Regions from separate parts of the Homo sapiens genome. Here region 1 is linked to region 2. The links come from fine-mapping of genetic effects on gene expression. A gene starts in region 2. The other region holds a variant in brackets. All regions are shown on one strand. Distances are between the middles of the regions. Region 1 overlaps ZFP37 (ZFP37 zinc finger protein). Region 2 holds the start of ZNF883 (zinc finger protein 883).

Region 1 (2,821 bases), 43 kb after region 2:
CCCAACTGCCTTCCCAAAGACTTCACTCCTGCAAGTACCTCTTTCTGTTTTGTAACATCTGTGTCTCCCTTTTATTTGGGTCATTCCCATTGACACACAGAGTTGTCTTAATATCATTCATCTAAAGAAAACCCCCTCTTGATTTCATATCCTATACAACGTCCATTTCTCTGCTTCCTTTACCAGCAGAACTCCTCATAACTGTTGCCTATACTTGCTGTTTCCACTTCATTACCTCTCATTCTTTCAACTCACTCTAACAGGATATTATCCCCTTAACTCCAATAAAAGAGTTCTAATCAATCAAAATAACCATTGAGCTACATACTGACAAAATCAAATGATCTCTAGTCCTGCTTTTAGGACTCAAAAGCATATATGACAATTGATTACTTCTATTGTCTTGAAAGGCTTTCTTCTCTATGCTACTTTGACACCCACTTGCACAGTTTTCCTCTTACTTCAATGGGCACCCCTTATTCTCTCTGTTGTTTTTTGTCTTCTACCAGACTTTTAAATGTCAGAGTGACCCAGCCCTCTGTCCCTGGCTCTCTTCTCTTCCCTATCTGTCTTCTCTTCCTAGGTGACCCGAGCCAATCTTAAGGCTTTAAATACCATCTTTATTGTGATGCATTTCAAAAATGGTTCCCTAGCTCACCCCTTTCCTAAGTTCCAGATTCATATATATAGTGGCTACCCAATATCTCTAGGTAGATGTGCAATGAGCATTTTGACACGGCCAAAATAGAGCCACTGACATCACCCCAGATCCCATTTCCATCCACCAAATCTAGTCTTTTCCACCATAACCCTTTCCATTCAGAAAATAGAATCACCATCCATCCGGTTCTTCAGGTTAAAAGTCTAGATGTAAATCTCGATTCTTCTCTTTCCTCATACTCCATATATCAATACATTAGTAAGTTCTATTGCTTATCTCCAGATGTATTCTGAATTTGATTTCATTTTGCTGCTACAACTCTATTCTAAATCACCATAATCTCTTGTCTTTGACTATTGCAAAAAGTTCCTAACTGACCTCCCTATATCTACCTACTCTTGCCCCTCTGCAGTCCGTCTTCCATGAGGTAGCCATGGTGATCTTTTCAAGGTGTCAGTCAGAACAGATCATTCCCCTGCTTAAACTCAATGGCTTCTCACTGCATCTAGAATAAAATCCAAATCCTTACACTAGCCAATAAAATCCTACATTATCTGATACCTTCCTACCACTATGATTCACAGCTTTCTACTTTCCCTCTGACTGTGCTCCAACAGCACTAATCTTCCTTCTCTTTTTTAAGCACACCAAGTTTACTCCTACCCCAGGTCCTTTGCA[G/A]TTGATGTTTATTTCTTCCTGAAACACTCTTTCTTCAGATCTCTGCATGGCTGCCTCCTTGTGATGATTTATGCCTCAACCCAACTGTCATTTGCTAAGGAAAGCTTTCCATGACTAACCTGGCTAAAGTCATGCACTCCCTACCCTCAATCACTCTGTACCACACCATCCTCTTTTACTTACTTCAGCACTTATTAGTGTCTGGAATAATTTTATTTGTTTATATTTTATGATATCTTTCATATTTCTATAATGTAAGTCATTGAGGGAGGGATTCTGGTTTTGTTTCCTGGTGTGTCTCCAGCATTTAAAACATTCCCTGGTTTTGAGGACAAAGCAGGGACTGCAAAACAACAACACCAAACAAATAAAATAAAAAATACCCCCTGGCATAAAATAAATGCTCATCTTACAGACTGTTCCTACTGTTCCTGCAAGTTTTCAATCACTGACACCCAAATACTCCCCAATCACTAACCTTCACAAACTTCTCCCAATTATGGATCTCTGCAAGTTCCCAACTATCACTCTCCACAGAACAATCATTAACCTCCACAGATCTCCAATCACTGACCACCAAAGAACCCTCAATCATTAAATGCAGCAATCCCCTCAAACTCCTGACCCCCTTAGACTTCTAGTCACAGAATCATAGAGGATCTTCAATCATTAATTCCTACTAATCACCTCATTACTCAAAGCACAGTTATTACTGCTAGACACCACCTAATTATTGACCTGCATACATCCCCAATTACCTTTTCTCCCCAGATGACATACAAATCATCTACCATCCCCAGAGACACCTCAACATTGACTCCCCAAACTCCAACAGTCATATTCCCCCCTCACTGGCCCCCCGATTCCTCCATTACCCACTGACCCTCAAAGATACTGCTAATCAAACTTCCACAGACATCACCGTCACTGACTCCCAAGCCCCAATCTCTGATGCTCCCAGATGCTCCCAATCACTGAATTTCCCAAATCCTAACACTGACCCTCTTTGATAACCCAGGCTCTAACCACCACAGGCACCCATAATCGCTGGCTCCCATAGACATCCCAAACCGCCAACCCCCACGGTCCTTCCCTATCTCTGACACATCACAAAGCCTCCATTTCTGATCTCCTTCCAAACTCCGACACTCGGTGACTGCCACAGACGCCTCCCCATCATTGTCTCTGCAGATCCCTCCTAATACTGATATCCTAAAGCCAAATCATTAACCCCACAGATAACTCAGAACACCGACCTCCCAAAAGACCATCTAGCATCGATTCCACCAATTCCCAAATCACCTATCGTCACAGACTACTCCAATCACTGCCCCGCAAGTACACCATCTCTGACCGCCAAAACACCCTGTCTCATCACAGCTCTCACCGCGGCGCTGGCCTCGGGCTCGGACACAGCCATCTCCAGTGGTCGCCCGGCCTCTTTGGTCGTTTCCGCACTTCTCCTCCGGTCCACGGTCTCTG
Region 2 (2,821 bases):
CATTACATGTGCATACACGTTATGAACTATTGTTCATAACAATGTATTCTTGAAAATTGCTATGAGAGCAGTTTAAGTGCTCTCACCACAAAAAATGAAAAGTACGTGAGGTGATGCATGTTCATTAGCTTGATTTAGCCATTCTACTACGTATACATATTTCAAAACAACATGTTACACATGATGAATATATAAAATTTTTATTTGTCAGTTATAAAGAAAAATTAGGCCGGGCACGGTGACTCACACCTGTAATCCCAGCACTTTGGGAGGCTGAGGTGGGCAGATCACGAGGTCAGGAGTTTGAGACCAGGATGCCCAACATGGTGAAACCCCATCTCTACTAAAAATACAAAAATTAGCCGGGCGTGGTGGTGCACGCCTGTAATTCCAGCTACTCAGGAGGCTGAGGCAGAAGAATCGCTTGAACCCAGGAGGCAGAGGTTGCAGTGAGCCAAGATCGTGCACTGCACTCCAGCCTGGGCAACTGGACGAGACCTTGTCTCAAAAAAAAAAAAAAAAAAAAATTGAGAGCAAATAATGAGCAATAAAAGAGATTATCAAGGGACGTTTAATTGCATATGATTTTTCCACACTGCAAGATGGAACTTTAGAAATTAAACCCAGCTTAAGGTACAAATGCCTTGAAAAGTTTTGCTCACCAAAGACCATGTAGTCAGGGGCCAGTGGTCAGGTCCTTCTTCTTGATGCCATCTTATATAAGTAAGTAGAGACCTGAGAAAGCAGAGCTGAAAAAGGAAAGGGGCCCTGAGAAATCAGGACTGTCTTTATGAGAAGCCTGTCTGACTACCTGGATATAACCCACACCCTCTGTAAAAATGTCAGAATGAATCTAGGAACAGATTCTTTCCCTGCAGAGTACAAAGTGAAAGGCCACTTACATTCCTCTCTCTGGTCACTGGTCCAATCTGACAAACCAGAAACAGGGCTAACTTTATCCTCCCATGATGGGTGGCACCGAGTGCACCAGCTCCCTCTTTGTTTGTTAACAATACTTGTAAAGCATATACAATTTTTCGAAGTGCATTCACAAATGCCATCTCAAAGAACAAACAATTGCTCTTCGTCGCCCGCAGAGTGTAGGGAATCAATTCCACAGTTCTTTATAGAAGAGACTTCAGAAATTTACCAGTAAAACGAAACAAGCTATCTCTAGAGAGGAGGTGAGTTTCTGAGGAAAGAGCAAGAACTGGATGTCGGGAAACCTAAATTCTAGTTGGCACTAAATACGTATATCACGGTTTTCTTGCAATTCCCAGGTCTACCTACCACCAAGGTCTGGGGTGGTTGCCCCTCCCCAGATAAACTGCCCCCCATCACAGTCAAAGCAAGGCCCAAAAGCTCTGAGCTCTGTTCTCATGACTCTCCAACCCAGAAGAGAACCCAAGCCCCTGACTGTTAAGGCTGGGATGAGCAGACACGGCTTTGCCTCCTCCTCACCCTGAAGCGGGATGCTGGCCCAGGTCACCACCACCCCTCCACTGCAACGTGAACCAAATACCCAGCCTGACCTAATCGGCTTTCCTCCGCCCCCGGGCCCGGCCAATGCATTCTCAGGCCTCTCCCGACCCGCCCGAATGGTTGTGTTTGAAGGGGACCTCTCTCCCCACCTCCCACACGAGTGCAAGGGTCGGGAAAGAAAAAGCTCACCTGCTCCACCGAAAAATAAAGAGCACGGTCGGGCGATGTGGTTCCCAAGCCAGGAAGTACGCCTGCGCACGCGGCCGCCAGGAACTACATTTCCCAGCATCTTCTGCAAAGCGCCCTCTTGAGCTGCGTCTTTCACCGGTGTCTTTCTAATGCTTTGCGGGTTGCGAACGTGCGTCGTTTCCATCGTTGTTTACATGAAAAGAAGAAAAAAGGAAAAGATTTTTTCTTTTGCTATAAACAACTGTAAATCCAAAGAGATGCAAAGTTTGCGTTAACAACACCCCAGACACAAAAGTAATACCTATTCACTACATTAATAGATGATTTATAAATAACTCTTTATTCAACAGATAAAAAACCAAACTACCCAGATGGATTCATTGCAGAAATATTTATTAACGCAGTGATTAATATTTTTTAGCATTCTAAAAGTAAATCTCTGATTTATAGCTAGCTTCTTTGTTATGAGTGTGTGTTGAGGGGACGGTGGCGGGGGGGCGGGGCGGGCAGAGACAGGGGGCAGAGAGAGAGACAGCGAGCAAGCACCAGAGAGATTCCATCCAAGAATGAGGTCATACTTTTGGGGTAGATTTTTTTCTAGCTTTTTTCTTCCTGTTAGGAACTTAGGTTATGATCCCTTCAGTGCTACCAAAAATAGTATACTGATGAACATCCTTGTAGAGTAATCTGTTCACTCCTCCACATCTGTTCTTGACAAAAACGTCCGAAAAACGAATATAATGAAGAGGGAATATGTATATCTAACTTTTTTCTTAAACAAACGAATATAGATAGATAGACAGATTGTAGATAACAGAGAATAGAGGTAAGGAAAAAGAACAAAATTAGTCAGATAAAAGTTCACTCCAAGATACTCCCTATTATATATTTAAATATGTAATTTCTATGCATATATATACAAATTCTGTATAATTAGATATTCTCAAGTATAAAACTATACATACTTTAAAAAATTGCTTTATTGAGCTATGATTGATATAACTGTACACAGTTAATATACACAACTTGATGTGTTTGGAGGTAAGTATATATACCTGTGAAACCATTAAGCCATCATGCCATCAATCCCATAAATTCATCTATCACTTCCAAAAGTTTCCACCCCTTTGGGCTTCCCCCACCTTTTGTG

Evidence for each region. PIP is the estimated chance that this variant, and not a neighbour inherited with it, causes the effect.
Region 1: its variant is fine-mapped to the expression of ZNF883 in whole blood (TOPMed, PIP 0.93).

What each region holds. Positions count from the first base shown.
Region 1 is chr9:113,053,831-113,056,651 of GRCh38, forward strand. ZFP37 (ZFP37 zinc finger protein) reads right to left here. Exons shown (of 4, transcript NM_003408.3): 1 at 2,727-2,821. Among named protein-coding and RNA genes, the nearest start is that of ZFP37, 1.5 kb to the right of the region's middle. RefSeq lists an enhancer at 2,525-2,821. The variant G/A (reference allele first, on the strand shown) is at 1,340.
Region 2 is chr9:113,010,479-113,013,299 of GRCh38, forward strand. ZNF883 (zinc finger protein 883) reads right to left here and starts at 1,714. Exons shown (of 5, transcript NM_001101338.2): 1 at 1,672-1,714; 2 at 663-749.